Linked DNA regions of Homo sapiens. The protein of the gene in region 6 purifies or fractionates together with the protein of the main gene of each other region. This does not show direct contact. Each region holds a gene or a part of one and is shown on either strand. Other genes may lie near its edges.

Region 1 (3,500 bases), on a different chromosome or scaffold from region 6:
ACACTGAACTCCCAGGCTTAAAATAAGAGCTGGCTTCAGTGACTGACACCAAGGGGAGGGCACCTCTGGGTTGGACCCTGAGGGGTCTTTGTGCTCAGTAGAATCTTGGGGGGCCAGCTAGGCAACGCTGCTTGATGTAATGAGGTCCCTCAGGGTCGGCTGCCTACCTACTGTGAAAACAGTTATTTCTGGGGAGAGAGGGCTGTCCCCAGTGGAGAGCCTCAGAAATGAACTCAGCATTTGCAGGAAGTAAAAAGAAGTGGCCTATACCGGAAGCGTAGGTTTGGCCTGGCTGAACCGCAGGGGAGGATCCAGTCTGGACTGGGGGCATGAGATAGCTCTAGCCCACTCCTCAGAGGTCTCTCATTTTGAGTCCCCATTTCAGGGGGATGCTGAGAGCCTGAGAACCCCTGGTCTAGCTGACAAGCTCCTCTTCAGCCACAGAAAGAGGGGAGGAGGCCCAGGTAGGGGAGGTAGGTCCCTGGGTCCCCAGGCAGGTTGGCAGTGGAACTGGAGGAGTCCAGAGGCTTGGCCCCTCCCCCAGTAATGCAGCCACCTTTGACCCCGTGCTTCTTAAAGATAGCTGGGACTGCCCCCACCCTTCCCTAGCCCAGGTCTTGAAGTCCTTCCCATCCTTCCCACAGTTCCGATTTCGGCTTCTAGCCCATCCCACCCAAGGAAGCTCAGCACACTTGTCTGCGCCCCCTTTCTCTTACATCCTCCTCCTGTCTGCCACTCCCCATTGATTTCTCTTCCTGCCTCTTTCTCTCTCCGATTTTCTCCACCAGTGGGTGCAGGTTCTGCTCAGTCTTCCTGCCTGTCCTCTCCGGGGGCCCCCAGAACTAAGCTGAGCCTGCTCCAGCCCCATATTTTACCGCAGGAGGTTGGCTTCCTTCATGGCCAGGAGGAAGTGGTGAGGGGCAGCTGGCATGCCTGGTGGTCAGGGACAGGCAGGGTCTGAGACCCAGGCCAGGCCCCTCTCCCTGAGCAGGTTTCTCCAGATCCAAAAGAAAGAGCTGGCGAGATTGGAAAGGTCCTTTCTAGACCCTAAAGAACCCCTAATAACCCACAGGGCCAGTCTGTGCTCACGTGGCACAGTGGAAGAGAGGACACTATTTTTTTTTTTCTTCTGCTCGGGGGTCCAGTTTTTTCTTTTCTTTTTTTTTTTTTAGTTTTTTGATTTTTTTTTTTTTTTTGAGACAGGGTCTCACTATGTTGCCCAGGCTAGTTTCAAACTCCTGGGCTCAAGCAATCCTCCTGCCTCAGCCTCCCAAAGTGTTGGGATTACAGGCGTGCGCCACCACGCCCCAGCCTGGAGGCCCAGTTTCTGTTTCAGGAAGTGACCTCTGAGCCAAACCATTTACTCACCTCCTTCTCCATCTTTCTGCCCTACAGCCCACTTCCTCCAAATGCAAAAAGCTGACAGGACACTGTCCCTAAGTCACCCCATCACCCAGCCCTGGACAAGTCCGCCTGGCAGTTTTGAAAACTAGTCCCATGGGCATGCTTCTGAGTGCTGTGTCCTTCCCGTCTGACTGATGGCTCTCAGGCAGCACAGCCCTCCGAGGTGGTCAGGAGTGGCGGCTGCACTCCGCTGGGAATCTTGACACTGCTCCTTAGCCTCCCCTGTCAGAGGCTGGGCCTCAGAGGAGCCTTCCAGGTCTCCTGGGTGCTCTGCATCCGGCGTGGGGCGCCCACTCCCAGAGCTCCGAGAGTCAGGTTCGAGGCCTTGTGATATCCCCCTTACCTGGTGGTCACTCCATTGCCTGGGTCCTGGGGCGCCTCCCTTGGCTGGCGGGGGGTCCCCGTGGGGGCTGGGCGAGGCTCTTCCTGGCGTCCTCTTGGGAGCCACTCTCCTGGCTTGGCGATGATGGCTGCTGGGGAGGAGGAGAGAAAGTTCAGTCCACATCTGCTCTGGAGCCCCTCTAAGGATGCCCTCTCGTGGGCTGGGTTGGAAAGCCAAGAAAAGCACGCACCCCAGGCCAGGCCCTGCGGGCTCCCTGGCGCCTGTGGCTTGGGATACTTGTTTACTCGTGCAGCCCGGGAACTTGCCAGGTAGCGGGGGATGGCAGGCACACTGCTGGTGGTGACAGGCACAGCCCAGGGAGGTTCAGATCACCCTGGCCGCTCAGCCTTCCTGGCACCCCTCAGCCTCTGGAAAGCCCTCAGAACAACAAATTGTCTCCCTGGGCCATGGCTAGGCGCCCCCAGACAGAATGTGGAGGCCCATTTGCTTATCTGAAACTCAAATGTAACTGGGTGGTGTGTAGTTTTATTTGCTAAAACCAACAACCTGAGAGGTAGGGTGCTCCTCACCGAGCAGCCCAAGGCTCCTTAATGCTGAACCACTCGGTACACCCAGGGTGGCCAGGAAGTGCCCTAACTCCCAGTGACTTGTGCTGTAGCTGATGCCCACCCAGAACCAGGCCACCCGGGACACGCAGGAGCCCTTCACGGGGAAGCAGACGGAGAATCCCAGATAGCATCATAGCATACGGAGGGCTCCCCAAGGGCCTGGGAACAGATGTTCCTGCATCTCAGATGCCACGCACCCCTTCCCCCACCCCGCCTCTCCTCTTCTCCTACAGCTGAAGGGGTCCATGTCACTGCTGCAGCGACACTGTGACAGAGGCTGCATCCGTGACTCCCTTAGGCCAAGCTCCTCTCAGCTCTTTCATTTTAGCAGCTCCTCTGTGGCTTTGCAATGTGATCTGTTTAATCTTAAATATAAAGGGATCTTCCCTGCAGGTTTCCCTGTAGCAAGGGGCTTTGACTTCCAGATAATTCTCTTTTGACCCAAACGAGAATCTATTTCTGATACCAGAACCCAGCGGGTGGCACTGGGCGGTCTCCACCTGGATCTGGGTCTAGAAATAGAGCTTCAGGACAGGAGGCACATGCTCAGTGTGCTTAGAATAAGGCCAGGAGAAAAAGCGTAGGTGTACAAGAGAATACTTGAGTGAAGTCACACCGAATTGCTGGGCTACACGCAGGGGAACCCCATTACAACGTGTGGAGTCACAAAGCTGTGCCCACGCCAGGCAAGTCCTCTAGGACCAGGACCAGGAGCTTCCCAGGGGGTGTGAGCGTAGGGGACGGGGTGGTCATAAAAAAGGAGGAACTGAGCTGGAGTGTCCCAAGACCATGAGGTGGTCTTGGTTCAACTGTCCCCTTCTCCTCTCCTACTTCCTCCAGCACAGGCCACACTGAAGACTTTCAGAGGTCCCACCAAGAACAAGAGACCAGCTGAGCACGGTGGCTCACGCCTGTAATCCCACCACTTTGGGAGGCTGGGGCAGGCAGATCACTTGAGGCCAGGAGTTTGAGACCAGCCTGGCCAACATGGTAAAACCCTGTCTCTACTAAAAATACAAAAATTAGCCGGGTATGGTAACACATGCCTGTAATCCCAGCTACTCAGGAGGCTGAGGCAGGGGAATCACTTGAACCCCGGGAGGCGGAGTTTGCAGTGAGCCAAGATCGCACCACTGCACTCCAGC
Region 2 (2,281 bases), on a different chromosome or scaffold from region 6:
AGGCCTCTTTTGGCCATCCTATCTAAAATTACAACTTCCACCTCAGACTAACACTTACAATCCTTTTATTTTCGTTACTTTTATCCTTAGCACTTATCAGTACCTAACACACTATATCATTTTCTCATTTGTCTTCTTACCTGGTTCCACTCTAGAATATAAACCGGGAGCACTTAAAACAATACCTATTATGTTGTAAGTGCTCAGCTAATATTTGTTGAACACGTGAATGAATGAAAGATTCCTGGCACAAAGTGCTAATCTTCAATAAATATTGTTTGAACTGAACTGAAACAGAAAATATCTACATAGTCCCCTGTGTAAGTACTATAGATGGGAGAGGGCATACATATTGTTACATGCAGGGTTCTCCATAGATTATATGCTCTTTCTTCAATAATATTACGAAAGCCTACATTTCTCATGTGATGTTATGTACCTGTATGTTAATATGTATTATTTGTACATGCAAATATTAGTGAAAAAAGTAGAAGCACCAAAGCTTTTCTAATTTTATTTGACTCAAACTATATTTTAGACCTACATATCATACAATAAAGTAAGCTGAAAGCATAGTGAAATTAAAGTAAATACAGGTTGTATGGATAGCTCAATTTCTTTAATATAAAATGTAAATTCAGAGATGACTGGGATAAAAGAAAAGTGTCTAGAAAAAAAAACCAAAGATGAAACTATTTAAGCTCTTTACTGCAATGTCATATTCTGATCTCAGACAGTAGAAGAGTAGTAAGAAATGTACAATCTCAAGTCTCTCAGTCCTAAAATCTATCAGTGGATGCCAAAAATCTTCAAGACCCATTAACGTTTTCTAGAAAATAAGTCTTTTTTTTTTTAAACTAAGTGTACTAAAAACACAAAAGCACTTATCAGACACCCTATGGCATTTGTTGCTGAAATGTCTACCGGCTGGAGATTAGCCTTGAGCCGAAGCAGCCTCAGAGCCAACACTGGCTTCCTCCTGTAAATCATCTCCAGCAGAGGACTCTGACTCAGCTGGAGAATTTTCTTCTTCTAGTTCAGCATATTCATCAGAGGTTTCGTTCTTTGTTGTATCTTTATCATTATCGATGGTGACAGCTTCATCCAGGGCAGCATTTGTAACCTCTGGGGTTGTTTCAGGGTTTACTTCCGTGGTTTCCCTCGCCGCTGCATCTGTGACCTCTGGCCCGGTTTCAGCACTGACTGCTGTGGTCTCCGGAGCAGCCTCCACGTGACCTGGACAGGCAGATGCCTCTTTTATGACCACAACTGTAGCACTGGGACTTTCTTCAGCATCTACCACCTCAGCTTCCACTATAAGTTCTTCTGGGGCTTCTGAACTTGCTTTCTCAGTTTCCGCAACATTCTCCTTTTCACCTTTAAGAATTAGTCATTAAGCAAGGTATTAATTTAAAGATCGTGGGAAGGCAATGAAACACTGCGGTCGTTTAAACACCTAAGACAGAACTACATGCACTGATGTGTAACAGTCTTCAAGGTAGACTCTCAAGTGAAACAGCAAAAAAAGAACAATGTATACAGTCTGCTACTATTGTTAGGGCAAAATGAGGTTGGAGCAGGAGGGGGGTAAGTTGTATGCCTAGATAATTGTATTTGCAAAAACTCTCCAGGAGGATTCCAAGAAACTGGTTCTATTGGTTGCCTCTTGGAGGGAAAATGGGGGATCTGCTTTTCTGTAAACTCTTTGAACTTAAAAAAAAACACACTTGAATATATTACTTAGGCAAATATGAAGAATACAAAAATAAGTAGCTATCCTATTCACCTTTCATATGAGACAGCATGGAAGAGTAGCCAAGTTCCTAGCTGGTGACTCAGAAATCACTAATCCTCTCTCAATCTCATTTTTGTCATCTGTAAAATAGGGTATTGATAATATCTACTGCACAGGGTTATTGTAAAGATTAATTAAAATACTGTATATGAAAAGGGGATTAAAATAAAAAGTTCTATGCAAATGCTTATTAGTATTATAAACAACCGCATGATTATATTCAATAATATGTATTGATGATATTCTGTTTCTTATTATTGTCATGACAGGTTAAAACTGATTCATAAGCCCCTAATATCTCTATCCCTAAATAGTGATCATAGTAATTGATAATAATAGCTTGGAAAAAAGTATGGTTTAAAGCAAGAAGTGGCTAGGCATAGTGGCATATGCCTGTAATCCCAGCACTTTGGGAGGCTGAGGCAGGAGGGATCACATGAGGCCAGGAGATCAAGACCAGCCTGGGCAACATAGTGAGACCCTGTC
Region 3 (3,500 bases), on a different chromosome or scaffold from region 6:
GCCGAGATGGCACCACTGCACTCCAGCCTGGGGATAAGAGCAAGACTCCATCTCAAAAAAATAAAATTAAGGTAAAAAAAGCCTACTTACGGCCGGGTGCGGTGGCTCACGCTTGTAATCCCAGCACTTTGGGAGGCCGAGGCGGGCGGATCACAAGGTCAGGAGATCGAGACCATACTGGCTAACATGGTGAAACTCTGTCTCTACTAAAAAATACAAAAAATTAGCCAGGCGTGGCGCCGTGCACCTGTAGTCCCAGCTGCTGGGGAGGCTGAGGCAGGAGAATGGTGTGAACCCGGGAGACAGAGCTTGCAGTGAGCCAAGATCGCGCCACTGCACTCCAGCCTGGGTAACAGAGCAAGACTCCGTCTCCAAAAAAAAAAAAAAAAAAAAAGCCTACTTATTATATGCTAGATGTTAAAGCATTATACAGGTTAAAGAGGGAAATAAATCAAAATCATAAGTAATTATAAAATAAGGCAGAAATGATTAATGCCAAAAGAGAGAGTATAACAGGATTAAAGAACTCACAAATGCAAAGCACATCACTTTTTAATGCAGTGGACTGCCAAGGGCAGAACTTACCTTTAATGGACTTCACATCTGAGGTCTTCTCTTGTTCTTTGCCTTTCACTAGAACATAAAAAGATAATTATGACCAACTTTTGCAGTCAGAGATCCATTCTATAACACTGTAAAAATTAGACCAGCTTTATTCTAAGATGAGTATTCAAAGTTCTAGAACAATGGACAGCCTTGGAGGAGGGCACAGGAGGGTAGTTGTCAGCAAAGGCTTCTCTAAGGAAGTGACCTTGGAACAGCATCCAGTCAAAAGAGTTGAACCTGCTTATGGAGAGACAATGTAGTCACAACATCTGGGGTCAAATTCTGGCTCTACCACTTATAAGCCATGTGATCTTGGACAAGTTACTTACTTCTCTGGGTCTTAATTTTCTTGATTTATAAAATTAGGTCAATAATAAAAACTACCTTAGAGGATTATTGATGAAAAAAAATATATACCTGTAAGGGGCTTAGAAGAGTAACTAGCACAGTAAATTGAGGACAAATGCTAACCAATATTATTACCATGTGTCATCCATAGTACTAGCTACTAGAAGCATAGTGAAGAAAGGTCTTTGGTTGTGTATCATATCTTATTACTTATTCCTCCCATAGCATCAAGTGAAAACATCCTAAGCCTCTAACACTCAGAGTATAATAATTTGTCTGGGCCAGGCACGGTGGCTCACGCCTGTAATTCCAGCACTTTGGGATGCCAAGGCGGGTGGATCACCTGAGGTCAGTAGCTCAAGACCAGCCTGGCCAACATGGTGAAACCCCATCTCTACTAAAAATACAAAACAATGAGCTGGGTGTGGTGGCGGACACCTGTAAGCCCAGCTACTTGGGAGGCTGAGGCAGAGAATTGCTTGAACCCAGGAGGCGGAGGTTGCAGTGAGCCGAGATCGCGACACTGTACTCCAGCCTGGGAGACAAAGAGAGACTCCGTCTAAAAAAATAAAAGATAAAGAATAATTTGTCTGTAAAATAATCATATAATTGCTTCCTTACTACATAAAACAGTAAAAATTCTGCTGTAGATAAGCTAATATGACATCCAAGATAGGAAGGTGCCCAGCAGCTTAAGCCAAGTGTGAATTCTATCACAGGATCTGACATAAGACTATTTTTAACCCTCTTTTCTTGTTTTTTTTTTTCAACATTAAAAAATCTTACCAGGAAAAGGTTATCAAAATAAGAAATGCCAAAACGTGCCCATCTCTGTATTTGTGCTCTTAAACATTGAAAGGTGAAAGGCTAGTAGCAGGAAATAACTCGCCCTCAGAGTATCTGGATGAAGTCAATACATCAACTGTTGAGTGCTTGGTATGTGCCAGACATGCTCCCAGCTCAGAAAAGGCAATGATTTTGCCTTCAAAAAGTCTACATTCAAGTGTGTGGAGACTAACATGAAAAAAATAAATAAGATCGTTGCAGGTACTGATCACTGCTGTCAGGAAGACGACATTTAAAAATGTTGTAGGGTCACTGGTGTTTGCAGCCCTCTCAGCAGCATCTGCCCATGGACTACATCACTCACTTTAAACATTAACTTGTCTTGGCTTCCTTGACTCCTCTCTTCTGCATATACATCTGTATTTCCTGGCTGATCCTACCCATTCTTAAGGCTTACAATACCATAGATACGCTGTTACTCCTAAATTTATATCTCCATCCTAAATCTTTTATCTCAAATTCATATAGCTAACCACCTACCTGCCATCTTCCATAATTCCACTTGTCTAAAAGGGAACATGTCATCTTCTCCCAAACCTGTTCCTACCTCAGTCTTCATCTTCCCTCATGAATGACACTGTCATCCACCCACTACTCAGACCAAAATTCCGGAAGTCATCCTTAACATGGTCTGTTTATTACCTTCCACATACAAACTATGACCAACTGATTCTACTGCCAAAACAAACCACCACGGTTCCACTTTTACCACCTAAAAACATTCTCCTACTATCAATCAGATCTCCTATGTTATACTTCTAACATATACACAACTCAACAATCAAATATCAGCATTTTGCTTTATTTCCTTCTGTCCCCCTAAGTATTATACATAGACTTTAGAGTTCCTATGAATCACCACCTGACCCTTCCTTTCCCAGATATAAATACTTACTAAATTAGATATTTCCTGGCCAAGCGCAGTGGCTCACACCTGTAATCCCAGGACTTTGGGAGGCCAAGGCGGGTGGCTCACTTAAGGTCAGGAGTTCGAGACCAGCCTTGCCAACATGGTGAAACCCTGTCTCTACTGAAAACACAAGAATTAGCAGGGTGTGGTGGCGGGTACCTGTAGTCCCAGCTACTTAGAAGGCTGAGGCAGAAGAATCGCTTGAACCCGGGAGGCCGAGATTGCGGTGAGCTGAGATTACACCACTGTACCCCAGCCTGGGTGACAGAGCAAGACTCTGTCTTAAAAAAAAAAAAATAAATAAATAAATAAAGACATTTTCCTTCCATGTACGTTTTTTGACTATGACCACATACAAATACTTTTTATTTTTATTTTTTTGAGACACGGTCTTGCTTTGTTGTCCAGGCTAGAGTGCAGTGGCCTGATAACACTCGAACTCCTGGGCTCAAGTGATCCTCTCATGCCACCATACCTAATTATCCTTTCTGTTGTTGAGATGGGGTCTTGCTATCTCGCCCAGGCTAGTCTTGTACACCTGGGCTCAAGTGATCCTCCTGCCTCAGCCTCCCAAAGTGCTGGGATTACAGGTGTGAGCCACCACACCCAGCCAAACGTGTATATATATACATGTATGTGTATTTTTTTTAATGGCATTATTCTGCACATCTTTAAAAATCACGCAAATGGCTGAGCACGGTGGCTCACGCCTGTAATCCTAGCACTTTGGGAGGCCAAGTTGGGTGGAACACTTGAGGTCAGGAGTTCAAGACCAGCCTGGCCAACATGG
Region 4 (3,500 bases), on a different chromosome or scaffold from region 6:
CTTCTATTAAAATAAACATAACCCTGCCTGGACGGGTGAACACATTGGCTCTTGGTTGAAAGTCAGCTAAGCAGGTGCCCTCTGGGTGATGTGGCTCAGACTCTCCATTTACATTTCAAATTTTTCCATTTCAAAATTGGGAAAGAAAAACTATTACTTTGTTCATCACAAAAAACGTGCCCCCTGCCTGTGGAACCTCAGGCCCCAGACCCCAGGCCCAGTTGCAAGACCCCCAAATGCAAGGCCACCGCTCCTCATTGCCCCCTCGTGTGTTCCAGGGACCGGCAGCAATGCCTGCTACATGGAGGAGATGAAGAACGTGGAGATGGTGGAGGGGGACCAGGGGCAGATGTGCATCAACATGGAGTGGGGGGCCTTTGGGGACAACGGGTGTCTGGATGATATCAGGACACACTACGACAGACTGGTGGACGAATATTCCCTAAATGCTGGGAAACAAAGGTAACCCCGCCTGGTGGAGAGGACACTCACAGTCAGGGTGGGGGCAGCACTTGGCTGCATTCTGCCACTTGCAGTGGAAGAAGTTTCTAGGAGGAGAGGTCTGAACAGAGGTTTCAAGACTGGACCCCCTGGCTCACTCCTGACCTTTGTCTTTTGGACAGCAGAGAACCAGGGAGGACAGACCCCCAACATGGTACAAGATGGCCCAGGGTTGATGCCTGTCTAGGGGCTGCCTGTGACTGTTTTTTAGCCTGGAGGATTCTGGCCTTCCGGTCCCCTTGCTGTGTTCCTTTCCCATCAGAATAACAAGGGGGTGGGGTGAGGGTGGCTGGGCGGCAGGTTGGTGTGAAGCAGAGGCCCTGTCGCAATCGTCCTTTCCTCCGTGAGCCTCCTGCACCACCTAGTGGCCTTGTGGAGCTTTGCAGCTCAGGTCTCAGGTACCATGTCTGAAATGGCAGTGTCTGCCCTTTGTCTCAAGCCCCCAGGAATCAGGCCATCCTCTGCCACGGCCAGGATGAGTTGGTCCAAGTTGTCTCCCTAGGAGCAGAAAGAAGGGCTGGAGCAGCACCCAGCATGAGTCACTCCCTAGCCCCCTCAAGGTTTTTGCCTTTTCTAAATACCACCCATGCTGTTATTTACTTAGTGCTTTTCTTCGAATCAGCTTACAGTTTTTTGTTTTTCTTTTTGTTTGAGGTGGAGTTTTGCTCTTGTTGCCCAGGCTGGAGTGCAATGGCGTGATCTCGGCTCACCACAACCTCCACCTCCCGGGTTCAAGCAGTTCTCCTGCCTCAGCCTCCCCAGTAGCTGGGATTACAGGCATACACAACCATGCCCAGCTAATTTTGTATTTTTAGTAGAGACGGGGTTTCTCCATGTTGGTCAGGCTGGTCTTGAACTCCCGACCTCAGGTGATCCGCCTGTCTAGGTCTCCTAAAGTGCTGGGATTACAGGTGTGAGCCACCGCAACCAGCCCTTATAGTCTTTTTCTTTTCTTTTCTTTTCTTTTTTTTTTGAGACAGAGTCTCACCCTGTTGTCCAGGCTAGAGTGCAGTGGTGCGAGCTCAGCTCACTGCCACCTCCTGGGTTCAAGTGATTCTCCTGCCTCAGCCTCCCAGGTAGCTGGGATTACAGGTGCACGGCACCACGCCCAGCTAGTTTTTGTATTTTTGGTAGAGACCAGGTTTCACCATGTTGGTCAGACTGGTCTCGAACTCCTGACCTCAGGTGATTGGCCCGCCTCAGCCTCCCAAAGTGCTGGGATTATAGGCGTGAGCCACCGTGCCCAGTGGCCTTTAAGGTCTTTACTGACATTTAATGAAGGAGGAAAAAGAGGAAGAACCAATAGTACCATAAAGAGATGGTAACTAAAAAATGAGTATAGTGAAGAACCGTGCTATTCAAGTCTAGCTGATGCTGTCGCCTACCAAATGACCTGAACTAAGACCCCCTTTGGGCTGAGTGCAGTCTATCATCAAAGTAATCCCAGCACTTTGGGAGGCCAAGGTGGGAGGATTGCTTGAGCTCAGGAGGTTGAGACCACCCTGGGCAACATAGGGTTGAGACCCTGTCTCTACTAAAAATTAATAACAATAATAACAACAATAATAGTAAGACCCCCTTGGTTAAAAAGCGGGGGGATCAGCAAGTGTTGGAAGGGGTTAAGGACATGTCAGCACCAAACTGGGGTGGTCTTTGTGGTGGAATGAGAAGGACTGGGTGGGACTTCGTAGTGGTGGCCCACCCCTCTGTGATTCCATTCTGTTTCATGTTCTTCCATGGACCACATGAAATAGGAGGAATCCTGGAGTTCCAAATTCCAGGGGACTCTTCTCAGCTTTGGGACACTGGGCTTGGGCATGTGCCATGGAAATGAATCAATCCTTTGTTATTTCTTGAGATCCTTGAGCATGGAGAGGGCAGGAAATTTGAAGTCCCAAGAACAGGTTGACCTCCAGTGTGTTGTGGTCACTGAATTCTCCCTCCTGTGTGGCCTCATCACTCTGCTGTGGGCTTGACCAGTACTCTGGGTATTTGCAAAACCTTTAGAAAAATCTAGAAACTTTCCTTTTTTTTGTCTTCTTGTTCCTTTAAGACTTAGCCCAGTCATTTGCTTATTCTGCAGATAGTTTTTGGGCACTTTCCTGAGGGCCCAGTGCTATGCTATGCTGTGCTGTGCCCTGGGGACTCAGAGCTGAAAAAGACACACATGCCCTGTCCTCTTGGGGCTGTCACTACAGCAGTGGTGGTGGGAGGCAGTGAGCTCAGGTGTGTTGTGAAGGAGGAGAATGGTGAGGTGTGTGGGAACCTGAAACAGGCAGGTAGAACCCAGGATCAGGAGGAGGACAGGCTCTCGGGGAAGTGACCTTGGGGCTGAGAGCTATCAGGCAGCTGAGGAGGGAGACCAGTCTAGCAGGTAGACATGAATGCTGGTGGTTTTGTTTCTGATGTGAGAGAGTGGAGGACTCCCTGGTCCTTCCTGGTCCTCCCACTCTGCCTCTGCGGCAGAGCACAGGGCTGGGCACATGGCTGTTGATGATGCGCTTGAGGGGCAGTAGGAGACGCGGAGTGACCGTGAGACCGAGGGGTGACAGTTCTCCTGGCCACTTCCCATAGACACCCCAGGCCCCTCCTCCTGTCTCAGGTATGAGAAGATGATCAGTGGTATGTACCTGGGTGAAATCGTCCGCAACATCTTAATCGACTTCACCAAGAAGGGATTCCTCTTCCGAGGGCAGATCTCTGAGACGCTGAAGACCCGGGGCATCTTTGAGACCAAGTTTCTCTCTCAGATCGAGAGGTGAGTGGGCAGTGTCTTCCCTGCCAGCGCCCACCCTTCAGAGGTCGCCTGGCTGGTGGATTGTGATGGGGGTGGTAGGGACCCTAGGGGACATTTTGGCCATTTTTGAGGATTTTTTTTCCTCTGGAATAGCAGACCCTGGGCATTTGCATAGTGAAATCTTATAATTTTATTATAAATTACTTTTCTTGGCCTGGTGTGGTGGCTCATGCCTGTAATCCCAGCACTTTGGGAGGCCGAG
Region 5 (3,500 bases), on a different chromosome or scaffold from region 6:
TCTGTGTCCTCTTGGCATCGATATCTGTTATTGTCTTCTCATGCAAGTTGAAGTTTTCATGGTTCTTCATATGCCTCATAATTTTGGATTCTATCTTGGACATTTTTAATGTTTTATTAGGAGACTCTTGGTCTTAATTTAAATCACATCAAGAATGTTATTTTGATTTTAGCATGTAAACAACCTGGCTAGATTCATTCCACAGTTTTAGCCTTCTTCTATGGGCGGTGGCTCCAATGTCAGCTACATTTTCAAAGCCTTTGCAGTGCCATTCAAATATGTCTCATGTATGTTCCATCCTGTGGTCAGTCTAAGGTGGCAGGTTGTTTGTTCACTTCTCACCGTTTTTGACATTGTGACTGAGATGGGATCCATGCATGCCCAGGTCAGGGGGTGAGCTCAGTATTTCATAAACAACTTCATGAGGTTGTTTTCCTGAGTCCTCCATCATCGTGATTTATCTGGTACTTTCTAGTTTCCTGGGACTCCCCTTTTTGCTTCTCCAGTCATAAAGCTGGAGCTTTAGTTACCCTATGATACCACACATTTCCTTGACTATGCTTATGTCTGACTAAATGGCAGGACAGAAAGGAAAAAAGCTGTGGGTATCACAGCTCCTATTGAAGAGGAAGATTCTTCTGTGTTTCAATTTCCTACAAGTCCCATTGCCTCGGCTGTCGCTACAGCCACTTTGGGGTTGCCTGTGGTTTGGGTTGTGAGAAAACAGAGAGAAGAGGACAAAAAAGGGACAAGAGATTTCTACATTCTGAGTGTTAGGATTGTTTCCCTTTCCTGCTTCTTGAGTGAGAATGAGAACCCTTCTCCTAGAGCTCTGTCTGTTCTCATTGATGCCTGGGGTTCAGACTGCATTGCATTTGGTCAGGAAATATGAAGAGGCAAAAAACGGTAAATTCACCAACAGTTCAGTGATACTTGAATTCTGGTCTTCTTTCCCAATCAGGCTGCTCCTATTATTCAGAGTCCTCAAATACTTGCTCTATGCATTCCGTCCACCTTTAAGTGACATTCAGTGGAGAGACAGAGTGCAGTACGTTTGCTCCGCTTTATCCTGGACCGGAGACCTCACAGCTTTCTTCTTAACCTGTGTTCTATACTACTTCTCATCCTTTAAGAAACGATGGGGTGGTAGCTACACTGATGGAAAGACTAAAGGCTCTGGTCTTAGTGTTCCGTGCACACTCCACAGTCTCAGGGCTCCCACCACCCATGGCATCATAACCTGATGTGCACTAAAACCAATTGTTTTATAAACAGTTATTACAAAATGACACTTTATGCAGTCTGAAGGTACCTTTTAGGTTTTGTTTTTAGACTAGGAAAATTATCTTACTTTTTGCATTTGTGTTCTCACTGTAGGGTAATCATTCTGTGTTATCACACTATCCTAGGTTTGCCCAAAGGACCAGCCAAAACCTCACCTCAAGCCACGCATATGATAATGTAAGTAACAAAACTCTTTTCTAGCAGTGCATCTAGTCAGCAGATTATTGTAGCCAGAAAAGAACTCATGGTCATTAATTCCCATGTTCTGCTCAGTATTGTGTTGATGCGCAGCCCCTGTTAGCAAGATGGTAAGGATCAAAATTTTTTTGGAGTTTGTATTTGCTATCTCCACTTCCTTTCCTTGTATTCTCTTTGACTTCAGACATGCTCTTCTACCACTCTATGGACATAACTCTTGTCAAGGTCACTGGTGACTTCTGTATTGTGAAATTTAGAACTGCAGTTCCATAGTCCCTCATTTTATCAGCAACAAATGACAAAGTTGATCACTTCCTCCTTCTTGCACACATGGCTTTCAGACACCAGTCACTTTGGTTCTTCTCCTGCCTCACGTTCATTTCTTCTCCATCTCTTTTGGTGGCTCTTCCTCCTCTACTGACCTTTTCTTGTTGGAGACCCCAGGGATCAGGCTTCAGACTTTTCTATCTACATTCATTCCTCTGTGGTCTTTTGGTCTCATATCTTGAAATAACCATTCAATTTTTGACAACCTACAAGTTTGTATCTCTTGTAGCCCAGACCCCTTCTCTAAACTCAGAACTCATATATCTACTTTCCACTTAATGTCTCCTCTTGATTTCTTCCCAGTCTCCACTCTCAACCTGCCCTTCCTGCAGACTTGCCACCTCAGTCAATGGCCACTCTGCTCTTTGCTGCATAGGTCAAAAACCTTGGGTAATAGCGCTTGACATCCACCTTTTTACTTTTACTTTTGCCTTTTACTTTTAAAATATGTCAATTATTCAGCCACTTCTCACCACCTCCACTTCTGCATCTTAGTCCAAGTCACCATCGGATGGACATTGCAGTGGCCTCTAAGGGAAGCCCTGTTTCAACCTTTGCCTCCCTTCGCATCCCTCCCACCCACCTCATAATCTGTTCTCAAAACAAAAACAGGGGCATTCTTTTTTAAAAAGTGAAGTCATATTATGTCACTCATTTGCTCAAAACCCACCTGTGATTTTCTTCCTCACTCCATTTTACTCAGTAAATGCCTGAAATGCCGATCTGACCGCACCCGTCACCTCTCCAGGCTCACCTCCTGCCCCTCTCTACCTTGGCTCACTCTATTCCAACCACACTGGCCTCCCCCACTTCAGAGACTGTGAACTTGTGTCCTCTCCAGTAACCACAAGACTCACTTTAGTCAGGCTCTGCTTAAACGTCCCCAGTGATGAGACATTTCCTGACCACGACCTATTAGAGCAGTATTCCACCCCAGTCTCTCTCCCACCCACTACTCTGCTTTTATATTAGAGCACATGCCATTGGATATCTGTTCACATTTGTTGATTGTCTGAGTCATGAGGGCAGGAACTTGGTCTGCTTTGTTTATTGCTTTATTAATAGTGCCTGGCAGCTGGTAGGTGGCCAGGATATATTTGTGGAGTGAATAAGGAAAATTATGAGAAGAGATATTTCTAATTAAGATTCTAATATTTTATCAATCCTGATTTTGTTGTGTCACTGAGTGCCTCTCTGTAGATTTAAATTTTTTTTTTCCTACTCAAGGCTGAGATTTTATATTCAGAGTGAAACAACAGAGAATCTGGCCTGAGCCATTGAATCTGCTTCATTTTTAAAAGCAATATATGGTTTTTTTTTCACAGTTTCTATGGGAAATAGGGTGCATTAGGCATAAAATCAGACAAAAATATAGTAAATTCTTGTTTTTGAGACAGGGTCTCATTCAGTCACCTAGGCTAGAATATATAGCATGATCATATGATCATAACTCACTGCAGCTTCAAACCCCTAGGCTCGTGATCCTCCTGCCTTGGTCTCTGGGGTAGCTGGGACTACAGGTGTGAGCCACCATGCCCAGCTATTTTTTTTTTTTTTTTGTAGAGTTGGGGTCTTGCTGTTGCCTAGGCTGATCTTGAACTCCTGGGCTCAAGTAATCCTCCCACCTATCCTCCCAAATTGCTGAGATAACAGGCATGAGCCACCATGCCCAGCAGAAAAGTAGTAAATCT
Region 6 (3,500 bases):
ACATAAAAATCCAAACATACTTCATATGACTTGGTTTCCAGGTCTTTAATGTAGTCCTCGGCACCAGGCAGGCTCTTATAATATGCCATGTTCCTCTTCATCATTTCGTCATCAGGATGCTTCAGTAGAAAGGTGTGAGCAGCGGCGATGGCTTTGGGGAGATTATTTGCCTAAAAGGACAAAGAACATAAAAGCTACTCCATGGATGCTAAGTGGTAATTTTTGTAAAACAAGAATATCTGCTTAGTCCTTCAGAAACTTTGTGTTGCTATAACTTTTCCAGCTAAAGGTTCCATGACTTCCAGGGCCCCTCAAGACCAAGTCCAGGCACTGTGAGACAAGTGCTGATTTCCTGAAAGCGACTGTCTGGATGGCCTCGGTCTGCCTTTCCCAATCTACTCTGCACTGGCTACATGCCCCAGGAGGCTGGCCTGTGTGGACTATAACAACAGACTCCCTCGCTCTCTGGCTTCCAAAGAGGTTCACCCATGAGGAGCCCCAGTAGATGACTGAGGAAGGGAAGAGAGTAAGGTCATGTTATTTCATTTCCTGGTTCCCTCCCTGCACAGTCCTCTTGGGCTGCTATGTCCCTTAATTGAAGATCACAGTTCTTCTCAAGGTGACCCTCTCCATAGAGTCTCCCTCCTTCCCGGTTTCAATCACTGCTCTCTCCCCTGCCCCTTTTGGCCTAGGGTTGGTCATATCCCACTGCTATCACCCCTGTGGCAGAACACTATCTCTTGTGGATTCCCCATGCACTGCACACACCTTTGTAAATAACCACCTTCTTAAACTTTCCTCCAATTACCCAATATGACTGCACCATATCTTTTCCACTGGCACCTTGACAAATATATTGTTTTCCCAAATCCCCCACAGACCTTCTGCTAACATTCTCAATGACTCCACCACCTCCTCACTTATTCATCCATTCATGCAGCAATAAACGTCATATTACAAGAGCACCATTTCTAGGTTGTGGGTCTATAACAATAAGCAAAACAGGAAAAAAAAATCCCCACCTGCATGGACCATATATTCTGTTAAGTTCTCCCTGTCTCCTAGTGGCCTCAATTAAGAGCCTCTCTGTTGGGCTAGTTCTGGGTTCTGTCTTCCCGCATTTTACGCCACCCTACAATCTCAGTGGTACGTCTATCTCCCCCATCAGACTATGATCCTCGGGGGACCCAGCTGTGTGTCATTCATTATCTGGATTCCTGGTGCCTCACACAGTCCTCAGGACAAGGCAGGACACAATAAGTATCTGTGATTTGAACATAATGACATTATGACCATAAAATATAATAAAATTAATTCACATTTTCCTCTCTTTTCCCCTCTGTCTTCTCTCCATTGAAGGGGCCAATGATTCTGAGTTTCACTGTCTCAGGGGAGGTAGATATCTGGTCAGAACCAGCAAATTATTCACTTGAAAAAAGCCTGCACTCACAAAAGAGCCTGACAGGTTTGAGGGGAGAAAGAAATTGGAGAGGAGCTGCAGGAAGAAGCTGACTGGCCTGGGAGAAGAAGAGGGAGAAAGGGAATCTCCCAGGCTAGGAAAAAAGTTTCCCTTGGGATCTGTGAGAGCAGCAGGGCTGCGGGCCCCGGAGCTTCAGGGCTGGCACTTATCGGCAGTGTTCAAGACGGCAGAAGTCCTCAGGAAGAACAGGTATGTTATGGCAGGACCTCAGGAGGGCAGGCAAATAAGGATGCAGAGGCCTCCCTGTGAGGACTCATGACCACCAACCAGAGGGCCCCCATGCTGATGGACTCTTGGCACAACCTAGTAGGGAGAAGGGCAGGCACCTGTGCATGTGCACAGAGACTCAGCCAATCCAGAGGGACGCTCCAAGGCGGGAATTAGGGAATTCGGTTTAGACAGAGAAAATAAAGGAATATTTGGTATACCCTAGACTTCTAAGAGTCATAGGATGGCATATATCGGTACCGAATTGCCCCAGAATTGGAACCAAGTCATTTTGAGACAATGGCAGTGGCCACATCAGAGAAGTGGTGGGTGGTGATGAGGGCAGACTCCCAGATGTCAATGCTGATGTTTTGGGAATGCCAATTAGTGGCTTGTGGCAGGGCTGCCTTTAAAACAGCCCTACAGAAAGCTTCACACTCCTGGCCAGAAAAAGGCTAGTCTTCAGCTGGAAGGAAGGGAGAGGGTATGAATGCTGCCTTTTAAAGCATTTGCCAGTGAAATTAGAGTCACTAATTCTCAGAACAGCACTTAGAAAGAGGGGCACAGAGGCCGGGAGCAGTGGCTCATGCCTGTAATCCCAGCACTTTAGGAGGTCGAGGTGGGTGGATCACGAGGTCAGGAGTCCAAGATCAGCCTGGCCAAGATGATGAAACCCCATCTCTACTAAAAAGACAAAAATTAGCCAGGCACAGTGGCAGGTGCTTGTAATCCCAGCTACTCGGGAGGCTGAGGCAGGAGAATCACTTGAACCCGGGGGGCGGAGGTTGCAGTGAGCCAGGATCGCACCACTGCACTCCAGTCTGGGTGACACAGTGAGATTCCGTCTCAAAAAAGAAAGAAAGAAAGAAAGAAAGGAATAGAAAGAGGGGCACAGAGTAGGATTTTTAAGGCTTCTAACTTAGGATGTTTTACAAAACGGAATCTCTTCCTGAAGAGAAAAGAGTGATTTTATTTACTTCAACTCAGGCTCTGCAGCTGGAACATGGAGACACATCTTGGCTACCAAACCTCTGACAGACCCCAGGCAGATTTTGGAGAAGGTGGTAGGGATGGAGGGAACCACCTTGCCTTGGGTTCCTGAGATACAGCCACCAGCATGAGCCACCCTAAATCAGCCATGACACAGAGGCAGGCCCTGTGGTTCCGGGGAGTTAGAGGCCACAGCCAGGCAAGGCCTGGGGTTAACAGTGCCTGTGAGTCAGTGTTCTCTGTCCAGGTTAGAGCTCAACAGTCATTAAGGATTTGATGAAGTGCTCCGGCCTACTTTTTGCTTGGCCTATGAGAAAAATGAGTTTTTCGTGGAAGATGGTAATTGTGGAGAGAACCCAAAGAAAGCTAATGACATGGACCTAGAGTAGGCTGGTGACGAGAAACCTATGATGCACCTGAGGCTGCACACCAGTAGCACAGCCCTTTTCTACAAGAGCACACATCCAAACCTCCTCGCCTCCCTCTGGCAGTCGGAACCCACCATTGCTATTCCAGTGATCAATTGAGGCATTTCTCCTTAATCACTGAAACAGAGAACTGCAACTCAGAACAGCAGAGTAACATTTATCCATGTCCTGCCACAGCGCACTATCTACCTTCATATCGACCTCCAGCCTTCAGGTGCCAGGTAGAATGTATGTGCCTGCCACCCATCTTTTCCTCTCTATCCATAAACAGAGTTTAAACACGTAAACATCACTTTTTTTTGACACAAGAGTCTTGTTCTGTCACCCAGGCTGGAGTGCAGTGGTAAGATCACAGCTCACTGCAGCCTTGACTTTCTGGGCTCAAGTGATCCTCC

Evidence for each region.
Region 1: the proteins of CRTAP (region 6) and ARMC9 fractionate together in Homo sapiens (co-fractionation; one large-scale study listed by BioGRID). This does not show direct contact.
Region 2: the proteins of CRTAP (region 6) and MGARP fractionate together in Homo sapiens (co-fractionation; one large-scale study listed by BioGRID). This does not show direct contact.
Region 3: the proteins of CRTAP (region 6) and AKAP10 purify together in Homo sapiens (tandem affinity purification; one large-scale study listed by IntAct). This does not show direct contact.
Region 4: the proteins of CRTAP (region 6) and HK1 fractionate together in Homo sapiens (co-fractionation; one large-scale study listed by BioGRID). This does not show direct contact.
Region 5: the proteins of CRTAP (region 6) and TOM1L1 fractionate together in Homo sapiens (co-fractionation; one large-scale study listed by BioGRID). This does not show direct contact.

What each region holds. Positions count from the first base shown.
Region 1 is NC_000002.12:231,359,131-231,362,630, reverse strand, and holds part of ARMC9 (lisH domain-containing protein ARMC9), read right to left. Parts: intron 1,878-3,500; coding exon 1,748-1,877; intron 1-1,747. UniProt on the Homo sapiens protein: Involved in ciliogenesis. It is required for appropriate acetylation and polyglutamylation of ciliary microtubules, and regulation of cilium length. Acts as a positive regulator of hedgehog (Hh)signaling.
Region 2 is NC_000004.12:139,265,665-139,267,945, forward strand, and holds the end of MGARP (protein MGARP), read right to left. Parts: intron 1,378-2,281; coding exon 935-1,377; 3' UTR 501-934; downstream 1-500. UniProt on the Homo sapiens protein: Plays a role in the trafficking of mitochondria along microtubules. Regulates the kinesin-mediated axonal transport of mitochondria to nerve terminals along microtubules during hypoxia.
Region 3 is NC_000017.11:19,967,829-19,971,328, forward strand, and holds part of AKAP10 (A-kinase anchor protein 10, mitochondrial isoform 1 precursor), read right to left. Parts: intron 634-3,500; coding exon 586-633; intron 1-585. UniProt on the Homo sapiens protein: Differentially targeted protein that binds to type I and II regulatory subunits of protein kinase A and anchors them to the mitochondria or the plasma membrane.
Region 4 is NC_000010.11:69,391,847-69,395,346, forward strand, and holds part of HK1 (hexokinase-1), read left to right. Parts: intron 1-278; coding exon 279-462; intron 463-3,103; coding exon 3,104-3,259; intron 3,260-3,500. UniProt on the Homo sapiens protein: Catalyzes the phosphorylation of various hexoses, such as D-glucose, D-glucosamine, D-fructose, D-mannose and 2-deoxy-D-glucose, to hexose 6-phosphate (D-glucose 6-phosphate, D-glucosamine 6-phosphate, D-fructose 6-phosphate, D-mannose 6-phosphate and 2-deoxy-D-glucose 6-phosphate, respectively).
Region 5 is NC_000017.11:54,945,852-54,949,351, forward strand, and holds part of TOM1L1 (TOM1-like protein 1), read left to right. Parts: intron 1-1,409; coding exon 1,410-1,461; intron 1,462-3,500. UniProt on the Homo sapiens protein: Probable adapter protein involved in signaling pathways. Interacts with the SH2 and SH3 domains of various signaling proteins when it is phosphorylated. May promote FYN activation, possibly by disrupting intramolecular SH3-dependent interactions.
Region 6 is NC_000003.12:33,117,014-33,120,513, reverse strand, and holds part of CRTAP (cartilage-associated protein isoform 1 precursor), read right to left. Parts: intron 171-3,500; coding exon 21-170; intron 1-20. UniProt on the Homo sapiens protein: Necessary for efficient 3-hydroxylation of fibrillar collagen prolyl residues.